Linked DNA regions of Homo sapiens: region 1 is linked to region 2. Evidence: fine-mapped expression QTL. A gene starts in region 2. The other region holds a variant in brackets. All regions are shown on one strand. Distances are from middle to middle.

Region 1 (5,361 bases), 76 kb before region 2:
CTCATTCTGTTGCCCAGGTTGGAGTGCAATGGCGTGATCTCGACTCACTGCAACCTCTGCCTCCCAGGTTCAAGTAATTCTCCTGTCTCAGCCTCCCAAGTAGCTGGGACTACAGGCATGGCACCACCATGCCTGGCTAATTTTGTATTTTTAGTAGAGATGGGGTTTCACCATGTTGGCCAGGCTGGTCTCAAACTCCTGACCTCAGGTGATCCGCCCACCTCAGCCTCCCAAAGTGCTAGGATTACAGGCGTGAGCCACCATGCCTGGCCTGATTTTTATCTTTCAAATAACCTTTTATTGAGCCTTTTTTTTTTTTTTTTTTTTTTGAGGCAGGGTCTTGCTCTATTACCCAGGCTGGAGTGCAGTGGCATAATCATAACTCACTGCAGTCTTGGCCTCCTGGGCTCAAGTGATTTTCCCAACTCAGCCTCTGGAGTAGCTCGAACTATAGGCACGTGCTACCACACCCACCCAATTATTTTATTTTTTTGGTAGAGACGGGGTGTCACTAATTTATTTTTATTTAGTTGTTTTTGTTTTGGGTTTTTTTTTTTTTGAGACAGAGTTTGGCTCTTGTTGCCCAGGCTGGAGTGCAGTGGTGAGATCTTGGCTCACCAAAACCTCCGCCTCCCAGGTTCAAGTGATTCTTCTGCCTCAGCCGCCCGAGTAGCTGGGATTACAGGCATGAGCCACCACACCTGGCTAATTTTGTATTTTTAGTAGAGACGGGGTTTCTCCATGTTGGTTAGGCTGGTCTCGAACTCCCGACCTCAGGTGATCCGCCCACCTCAGCCTCCCAAAGTGCTGGGATTATAGGTGTGAGCCACCACACCCGGCCTATTTTTATTTTTTTAGAGACAAGGTCTCGCTCTGTCACCCAGGCTGGAGGGTAGTGGCACGATTATAGCTCACTAACTGTAGTTAGTCACCAACTCCTGGTGTCAAGCGATCCTCCCGCCTCAGCCTCCTGAGTAGCTACGACCACAGGCATGCACTACGACAACTTATTTATATATTTACTTATTTATTTATTTATTTATTTTGTAGGGACGGTGTCTTGCTATGTTGTCCAAGCTGGTCTCAAACTGGCCTGAATCAATGCTTCCACCTCAGCTGCCAGAGGAACCGGGATTACAGGCCTGAGCCACTGCAGCCAGCCAGTTTGTTATTTTAATGTAAATTCTTAGTAAACAACTCAGGAGCTCTCTTGTCCTTTTAAAATCCATTTCAACTTCTGCTAATCGGAGTGTATATTCAGGGCAACTTGAATCTGTGCTCCTGGGATGCAATCCTCAAGCTTGGCCCAAATAAAGTCTCCGCTGATATTAATTTTGCCTAGGCTTCTTCCTTTTAGGTCAACACTCTTCAGGCTCATGTTGGGGTCTGTTCAGCTGCGTTTCAAAGGGACTCTAGACCCAGGAAGGCCCAGAACCACTGATGCTGAGTAACACCCTTGGCCTTCTGGTCTCAGTTGCTATGGCCTTGGGCATGCTAGGACAGGCAAGTGAGTTTCACTGGGGCATGTGTTGTTGGGTGGATGTTTCAGCTTCTTTTCTTTTTTTTTTTTTTTTTTTTTTTTTTGAGACAGACTCCTGCTCTGTCTCCCAGGCTGGCATGCAGTGGCACGATCTCGGCTCACTGCAACCTCCACCTCCCAGGTTCAAGCAATTCTCCTGCCTCAGCCTCCCTCCCCAGTAGCCGGGATTACAGACATGCGCCACCATGCCCAAGTAATTTTTGTATTTTTAGTAGATATGGGATTTCTCCATGTTGGCCAGGCTAGTCTCAAACTCCTGACCTAAAATGATCCACCCGCCTTGGCCTCCCACGGTGCTGGGATTACAGGTGTAAGCCACCCCGCCTGGCCTGTTATGTTTTTTAACATTGGTCTTTCGGCCACCAAGAGCCCAGGAAGGCCACACGCACAGCTCTGCCAGGTGCAGCCCAGATGTCCAGGGCTCTCTGGTCCAGGACACCGTGGCCTGGTCTGCCCTTATCTCCAGGCCTGAAGCCCCACCTGTCCAACCTGGAGACAGCTATGCAAGGTTCTCTTGCCAGGTGCTGTTTA[A/G]TCTTGGGCCCTCCAGGGCCTGGAGCAGCTTCCAGGGCCAGTCCTCCGTGCCCCCACCCAAGGACGTCCTCACTCCAGCAAGCTCAGCCACATGCTCAGCAGTCAGGGCCACTGAGGCCACAGCCCCACCGCCACCCACACCAGGCTGTCCTAGAGGGCCACCCCAGCCCTGGAAGCCCTCTCAACCCTTCCTAGAGGCCCAGCCAGTGGCAACAGACCTTGGAGGGGACACTTCCTCTAGAGGCCTTGCTTGGCCTCAGCCAGCCCAGATAATAGCCCAGGAGCAGAGGAAACAGGCAGCAGAGTGACAGAGACGGAGCTGGGCTTCCCCGATAGCAGGGAGCTGCCTGGGTAGCGTGGGGTGCACAGCCAGTGGGGTGGGCTATTTGCTACCACCACCCCCTATTTACTAATGGAGACACTCATTAGCTCACAGGTGCCCTGTAGGAAGCTCCACGTCTGTTTTCTCATTTGTATGATGAGAGGATAAAGAGGTGGTATCCGGGAAAGAAAGGGGCTTTGTGTTATGCGTGTCCATGAGGACAACACTGTACCCCCGAGTTTGGCAGGAGAGGAGAGGCAGGCAGTTTACCAGGGCAGCTCGAGGTGCAGTCAGCCTCCTTCCCTGCCCCCACCTGGGACCCCTGAAGGGGTGGCAGGTTGTGGGAGAGAACCACAGTGACAGAGGTTGGTGGGCAGCACGACTCGGGTAGGCTGAGCACCTGCAACCCTGGGCAGGGAGGCTGGCTCCCCTCCTACTGAGTGTCTGTTCTCACAGACGTGACCACAAGCACCCAGCCCCTCCACCTTCAGCAAGCAGCTCCCTGGATGCACCCTCCCTCCCAACACATCTCCACCTCCACCTCCTGGGCATTGCTGTCATCATGGGTCCTGCTCCCTGCTGCCCATCTGGTGCCTCTCCCAGCCTCCCAGCTTGGGGGCTGCACACGGTAGCCCATGGCCAAGGTGCCTGTAGGGTGGAAGGCAAGCTGCTCATCAGCTTCAGAGAGCCCACTGACCTCCAGGCATCCTCTCTTGTCCCCAACATTCCCCCCCTACTCCTGCTACCCACCTTGCTGCGGCAGCATGGGATTGTCCCACCCTCCACCCCTAGGGCTATGGGGCTCACCCCTAGGGCTATGGGCCTCCCTCCGCCTCCCACTTGAGGCGCCACTCCCACTGCCTCAAGGGTCATTTGCTCTATGAGGCCCTGCTTTGACCTTCTCCCTGACCTCTCAAGAGTGTGGCCTGCCTGAGTCAGCAGTGGGGGCTGACCCCTGGGGACCACTACGCAGGAAGTGCCTGGGAGCCAGGTATTGATGTGGTTCATGGCAGGGCAGCTCCACGCGGTGATGGAATGCGGACTCCCTGTAGGTGGCTGAGAGGCAGCAGCAGTCCACACCTCACCAATTCTTGTGAGGGCTGTTACCACACCTGGGGTGGGCAGGCAGGCAGCATCGCGCAGGGCACAGAGGCCCCCTAGACTCCACGCAGTGGGGCCTCACCATCACAGGCGTGGCTTCCCTGCACCAAGGGGCAGAGGCCCAGGAGCAGGGCCTGCCGTGGCAATGGCCCCCATCCCCACACCCTGCTGGTGTCCCCACTTGAGGCCCCTCACACCCAGCCACCACTGGTCAGGCCTCACCAGCATCTTCTCCCCTCCACAGCTCACCTAGACTCTTCCCCCAGGGAGCCCTCCTGGAATGAGCAAGTGCTGTGCCAGAGCCCCTCTCCCTGTCCATCAGATGGTCCTAAAGTGACCTGAGCTCTTCCTGGGATGAGGGTGTGCCCAGGAGGGGGTCAAGTCTGAAAGGATGGTGGGGCTGGGCCCCGGCAGGAATGCTGGGAGCCAAGCTTCCCGCCATGGGGTTTCCAGACTAAATGGCATCAGGCAGCACCCAGAGAGCAGGTACAAAGGCCACACTGTGCGCCACATGCCATCGGCCAGGCCTCGCCCTCTGTGCTGCCTCTGTGGGGAGCGCTTCTTCCCTTCCTCTTCAGATTGCTGGCTCCTTCTCAGTGCTCAGTAACACCTGCCTCAAGGCTGGGCACAGTGGCTCACACCTGTAATCCCAGCACTTTGGGGGGTGGAGGCGGGTGATCACCTGAGGTCAGGAGTTCGAGACCAGCCTGGCCAACATGGTGAAACCCCGTCTCTACCAAAAATACAAAAACTTAGTCGGGCGTGGTGGCAGACACCTGTAATCCCATCTACTGGGGAGTCTGAGGCAGGAAAATCGCTTGAACCTGGGAGGCAGAGGTTGTGGTGAGCCGAGATCATGCCACTGCACTCCAGCCTAGGGGACAGAGTGAAACTGTCTCAAAAAAAAAAAAAAAAAAAAACTTCCCTTGAAAGGCCCTCCCTAGCTCCCCCTTAATTAAGCAGGACCCCCTACATTCTCCCTTTCAGCCCATCTGCGCCCTCACCATTCTCACCCAGTCTGTGATGATGCCAGAATGCCTGGCGCTCAGCGAAACAGCCATTCATAACCAAGGAGATGGCCGCAAACCACAAGTGTTTATTGCAGAAATCTGGCCAACATTCCAATTGCAGGGCCCCAGCACAGGGCTGGGCAGGTGAGATAGGGAGGGGTGGAGGAAGTAATCTGGCCCAGGGCCTCAGAGCTGTGAGATGATATTGGGTGCCAGGCTGCAGGTGAGGCCTGTGCCATCTGGTTCCACATTCAGGGCCTTCACTATGCCATCCTGTACCACCATGGAGAACCTGCCGGAAAGAGGGGCCCAGCCAGCTGCATCAGCCTGGGCTTGGAGGCTGGGCATGGAGACAGGCAGTGAACAGCCAGGGGCCCAAGAGAACTCCAGAGAGGACTCCCCCCACAGAGGACTCTCCCCCACAGAGGACTCACCACCACACAGGACTCTCTCCACACAGAGGACTCTCCCCACAGAGAACTCTCCCCCACACAGGACTCTCTCCCCAGAGGACTCTCCCCTACAGAAGACTCTCCCCACACAGGACTCTCTCCCACACAGGACTCTCTCCACACAGAGGACTCTCCCCACAGAGGACTCTCCCCCACACAGGACTCTCCCCCACAGAGGACTCTCTCCACAGAGGACTCTCCCCACACAGGACTCTCCCCACAGACGACTCTCCCACACAGAGGACTCTCCCCCACAGACGACTCTTCCCACAGAGGACCCTCTCCACAGAGGACTCTCTCCCACAGAGGACTCTCTCCCACAGAGGACTCTCTCCACAGAGGACTCTCCACTTTTACCTCTTGAGACGTCGATTCCCAAAGATGGACACCAGCGAATCATCTAGT
Region 2 (5,361 bases):
GTATACATAAGCAAATGGGTGGGAGATGCCAAATTGACATGAGTAGCTGGAAGCTGTGGGTATACCAGGGAGGGAGGAAAGGGCATAGGTCAGCTCTGGGGCAGTGGAACCTCCAGCTTGTGCCAGGGCTAGCAAAGCCTGGAGCCAAGGCCTGAGCTTAGGGGATCTGAGCTGTGGGCCCTAGGCCTTGTGCAAGCGTACTTTAGAGAAGCATTGGGCAGCAGCTCCTTGTGGAAAAAAACAGGATGGGCACCTGTTTCCTGGGCTTAAGCCTCTCTCCTCCCCCAACCCTGTGTCTCTGGAGGCCAGGGCAGCCCCCATTACAGGGCTCCTTCCTTCCCAGACACTTTCTTCCATCCTTGGTAATGGTAATAGGGTATCTCAGCAGGCAGTAATGGTGAAGGCAGGCAGCCTTTCCGGACTCTACCCTTGATTGAAGGAGCGGTCTTGACCCACAGGACCCTCCCCAGAGCCTCTGCTTCAAGGATGCACTCTAATGGAGGGGGGCTGGGGCCCTGGAAGGGGTAGGGCTGGGGAGGCCACAGACTGAGGCTAGAAGGAGGAGGAGCAGTGGTACACTCCAGTCCCAGTAGGGCTCAGGCAGGAGGGCCAGGGCTGGGCATGGGCCCCCAACCACAGGAGGTCAGGACCATAAGCCCCCTGAAGAGGCTCTGAGCAGGTAAGTGACTTGCATACAGCCTCTCAGCCCATGGGGCAGAGCCAGGATTTGAACCCAGTATTTCTACTCCAAGGCTAAGGTTCTGTGGCCCAGCTTCCAAGAAGGTGGCAGGCCAGCATGCCCACCTGCACCAAGTGGTCTCGGGTGGATAGCCATGGGAACTGGACAGGAATCTGGGTGTGCCTGGGCATGGCGCGGTGGGGGGAAGAGGGAGAGTCAGAAAGAATGCCTGACCTGTGGACACGGACATGGCTGGAGACCTTCACACCAACCCTGAGGGAGGACAGACAGAAAGGTCAGGGCTCAGGGTCACAGCATCTTGGGGGCAGAGCTAGGGCTGGGGGTCTTCATGGCCTGCAGGCCCCACTTCCACAGAAGCTGTTGGGCATTAGGGGCTGTTTGAGGGTCTTCCCCCTTTAATCTGTGTGCACCCTCAAGGTACAAACAATGCTTGGGTTCAGAGGGAGCTGGCCTGGCCTGGTGGGGTGTGGTGGGGAATTTGGACTGGGGTAAAGTGATCCTCCTATCAGGCCAGGCTTAGGGCAGGAGGCCAGGCCACGGATAGGGCTCCCGGTGGAGAGGGTGGATCCTACCTAATCCGCAAGAGCGAGGGTCAGCCCTTCCTCGGCACCCAGACTGGCTGAAGGGAGGCTGAGGCCGGAGGAGGGGCACGGGAAGGGGAGGGGTCAGCTCACTCTACCCTTCCCTGAACTGAGCCCTGTGAGCCCATTGCCTTCACAATGCCCAGCCTCTGTCTTCTCTTGGTCTCTTCTCTCTGACTATAGGGCAAAGGAGGAGCCCAACATCCTGGGTTGGAGTTTGGATGCAGCCCCAGCTGTGTGACCCCGGGGCCAATCCCAATCCATCTCTGAACCCCACCCGCTGCAGAGGGCTTCCCCCCACAACATCCAAAGAGTGTCTTTGAGGGGCTGGAGCAGAAACATTGCCTCTCAGATCCAAGACCCTGTTTGGGGTGGCACAAGGTGAGCCTGCCTTCCACAGAAACATCCCCCGGGAGCTGCGCAGCCTTATTGGGTGGTGTCTACAGGGTAGTGAGGAGGTTGAGTAGAGACTTCGTGTCAGGGGGTTTGAGCCACACAGCCTGGGTTCAAAGTCTCGTCTCCCGTTTTATCTAGCAGTGCGACTTAATTAACCTCTGTGGTGTAGTAATTGAACTTTCCACGAATTTTCCTATTTAATCTTTGTTACAGCCTTCTGAGGAAATGCAGGCACAGAGGAAGACATTCATTCTTTCAAAATCATTTGTTCAACCAATGCAGCGGCCTACTACGAGTGTGACATAGTTCTAGGTGCTGGAGTTCAGCGGGAGCCAGGTAATTTGCCTAATAGCAGTGGATTTGAAGACTGTTCAAGCCTGGTAGCACCAGCAGACCAGGTCGGCGCAGGCCTCAGCCCCGTGGCACTCACAATCTAGAAGTGGGAGACAGACAATACACGAATGAATGAGACCATTTAAAGATGCAGAAAATAAAATAGAGGGAGGGAATGGGATGCGCCGTCGGCTTATTGGAGGTGGGCCAGGGCTATGTGAAGGACCGAGGAGCCGCAGGGCGGGGGTGCAGGAGCCCCGGCACGGCGCCCTCTCTGCGGAGCCGACTGGGCGGCGGTCCCGACGCACGCTCCTAGGGTCAGCCGCAATTACCGCCTTTATTATTATAAGTCGCGGCCCCCGCACTGCCCAGCTCTTTGCGCCTTAGTTTCCCCCTCTGTGCGCACTCGGGTCGCGAGGCGCAGAGGACGCCCCAAACAACTTTGCGCTTCCCGGCCTGGCCGCAGGGCGGGGGAGGGGCGGCGCCGGGAGCGGACTCCGTTTCCCACAAGCCCGAGCCTCGCGCCATCTTGCCGGTGGGCGGTGGCTGCCCGGGGTTGGCCGTTTGGGCCGGCCGGGTGCCACCGCTCACCCCCAGCCCCGGCTTCTTCCGCTGGGGGCGTGGGACCTGCTACTCGGAGAGTCTAGGGACCCGGACAGCTCCTGCCCGCCTTCTCCACTCTTCCTTTCCCAGGAGCCCAGTCCACGTGTCGGTCCGTGCGGAGGAGCCCGTTCGCTCCTCGCTGGCCGAGGGCTGGAGGACCTGGACATCGGGGACCGCAGCGTCTCCTCACCAGACTCCCTGTCTGCACACGATGTCCACTCCCCTGCATTCTCAGATAGCCCCTATTCTCAGATGGCCTCAATGAGGACAGAATGAGGAAGGGTCCAATGAAGACTAGGGTCCTGGCGTGAGCGCAAATCGTCGTCCTGAGCGCTTAGAACGCCTGGGTTTGGGACTGGAAGGTTGCGTTTGGGGAGTACGGACAGCTAGGCCACCCCCTGCCGAATAGACCCTCCCCTACCCCTGCCCGGGGGCGGAGTAGGGGAGAGGGGCCTGTAGAGGGGCTGGCCCTTTAAGGGGGTGTGGTCGGGGGGCGGAGGAAGAGCGAGACAGAGAAAGCGCTTCGGCGGCTGCAGCTCGGGCGGCGGCCGCGGGGGACAAAGGGCGGGCGGATCGGCGGGGAGGGGGCGGGGCGCGGCCAGGCCAAGCCCGGGGGCTCCGCATGCTGCAGCTGCCCCCGGGCGCCCCCGCCGCCGCCCTCGCCGCGGAGCCGCGCGGAGCGGAGCCGGCGAGCTAACCCGAGCCAGCCGGCGGGCGTCCCGGAGGCGGTGGCGCAGGGAGGGGCCCGACGCTCGCACGTGGCCCCGGCGGCCGCCATGGCGGACAGCGGCACCGCGGGGGGCGCGGCGTTGGCGGCCCCGGCCCCCGGGCCGGGCAGTGGCGGCCCAGGACCACGCGTCTACTTTCAGAGCCCCCCCGGGGCCGCAGGAGAGGGCCCGGGCGGGGCGGACGATGAGGGCCCAGTGAGGCGCCAAGGGAAGGTCACCGTCAAGTATGACCGCAAGGAGCTACGGAAGCGCCTCAACCTAGAGGAGTGGATCCTGGAGCAGCTCACGCGCCTCTACGACTGCCAGGTGTGTTCCCACCCCGCGCCGACACCCCAAAATCGGTCTCGCGCCGGTCCGCCTGGCAGCTCCACTGTGAGCTCGCCTGTCACTGGAGTCAAAGGGCGCTTTGCTTCCCCGCGCGCTCCCCTCCCCTCTGCACTCCCGCCCCCAATATATACTCTTTCTTGCCTGACCTAAGTCACTTCTGCCTTCTCCGTTGCCTCGGACCCTGCCCCCCATCATGCCACTCCCCAGGTCAAGCCTAGTGTCCTCCAGACGCCTCAAGGGGTAGCCTGAGCCTTGGGCAAGAGGCAAGGGGGCTATCCTGGGCTGGCAGCGGCAGGAGGTCTCACCGCCTGGTGCCCGCTGGGTTAGACTGTGGTTACAAGGTGCTGGTCTGGTAGGACGGCTGCGGCTGGGCTGTTCTGTGGGCTAGCCTGGAGCTCCATCTTGGCGTGCGTGCAGGCTAGCCCGCTTTCTGGGCTCTGCTTCTCCACCCCCATGACTCCCTGGTTGTTCAGACGGTGACTCAGGCCCCGGGGGGCAGGGTGGAGGAGTGGGTTTGCCCGGTGCTGCCTGCCTACCCTAGCCCAGCCCTGGAATGCAGCTGACTACAAACAGGATAGGGGCTTCCTGGGGAGGGTGTGGCAGGGTGGTGGGCATCCCCTCCCTCACCAAAGCATGGGCTCTTTGTTTCCTCTTTGCCAGGCCTGGGTCCTTCCCAGTGACCCCTCAGCCTTCACTTCCTCCTCACTCCCGGGGAGCTGTGACAGGTGTTTGGGGGAGGGGAGGGGGGTATGATAAGCTGGGACAGCTGCACCCACCGGTGCTCTGGTGAGATGGGGGGCCCGGATGTTGGGGAGACACATCTGCTGGGTTCCCAGCCCAAGGTCCCCAACCCTGGCTGTCTGGCCTTGTCTGTCACCCCCCGTGCCCACTGGCAGGGACAGGAAGCTCCCCCCCCCACCCCGCTTTGGGCAGTTTGCCTTGGCACGGGCCTGATCTGTTTTCCTCCCCAGAGCAGCTGCTGTTCTGTCTGCTGGGCAGAGGGCTGGGTTCCTCCGAGGTAGGCAGGGGCCTCAACCCAGAGCCCCTCTCACACCCTCTCTCCAACTCAGGCTTATGTCTCTCCCTCCTCCCCCACCCCCACCCCAGGAAGAGGAGATCCCAGAACTGGAGATTGACGTGGATGAGCTCCTGGACATGGAGAGTGACGATGCCCGGGCTGCCAGGGTCAAGGTGAGGGGGCTGGGGGGCGATGGGTTGCCTGAGGCACTGCCCCGGGAAAGTGAGGCTGTGGAGCCAGGCCCTCAAGCCCCAGCTCCTGCCTCAACAGAATGGGGCCAATGCCTAGCTGTGAGGTTGTTGTGGCATCTCCTGTGCCTCAGGGTGGCCCCAGTCTCTTGGAAGTGGGTATAGGCGAGCTCCAGGCCCCCACTCCTGAGGACTCACTTATCCTTCCTCCCCCATCCTCTGCTAGGAGCTGCTGGTTGACTGTTACAAACCCACAGAGGTAAGAGATTTCCTGGGGGGCTGGCGGGGGTGGCAGGGTGAGGGGAGCCCGGCTCCTGTCATCTTGGGGTCTGGTCTCCTTAATGTTTACCCTCCCACCCCATCCAGGCCTTCATTTCTGGCCTGCTGGACAAGATCCGGGGCATGCAGAAGCTGAGCACACCCCAGAAGAAGTGACGGTCCCCGACCCAGGAGAACGGTGGCTCCCACAGGACAATCGCTGCCCCCC

Evidence for each region. PIP is the estimated chance that this variant, and not a neighbour inherited with it, causes the effect. A credible set is the group of variants that fine-mapping cannot tell apart.
Region 1: its variant is the best candidate, but not a certain one, in a credible set for the expression of PPP1R14B in stomach (GTEx, PIP 0.86).

What each region holds. Positions count from the first base shown.
Region 1 is chr11:64,321,021-64,326,381 of GRCh38, reverse strand. It overlaps PRDX5 (peroxiredoxin 5), which reads right to left. Exons shown (of 6, transcript NM_012094.5): 5 at 5,314-5,361; 6 at 4,571-4,796. The coding sequence ends at 4,691. It overlaps LOC102723878 (a long non-coding RNA gene), which reads left to right. Exons shown (of 4, transcript NR_188518.1): 4 at 1,051-1,332. Among named protein-coding and RNA genes, the nearest start is that of PRDX5, 5.6 kb to the right of the region's middle. RefSeq lists a silencer at 890-1,042. The variant A/G (reference allele first, on the strand shown) is at 2,072.
Region 2 is chr11:64,244,702-64,250,062 of GRCh38, reverse strand. It overlaps PPP1R14B (protein phosphatase 1 regulatory inhibitor subunit 14B), which reads left to right and starts at 3,120. Exons shown (of 4, transcript NM_138689.3): 1 at 3,120-3,647; 2 at 4,776-4,859; 3 at 5,101-5,133; 4 at 5,241-5,361. The coding sequence starts at 3,390. The coding sequence ends at 5,309. PPP1R14B-AS1 (PPP1R14B antisense RNA 1) reads right to left here and starts at 4,197. Exons shown (of 2, transcript NR_135087.1): 1 at 3,974-4,197; 2 at 1,849-2,110. RefSeq lists enhancers at 1-388, 389-1,034, 1,035-1,682 and silencers at 2,407-2,546, 3,267-3,446.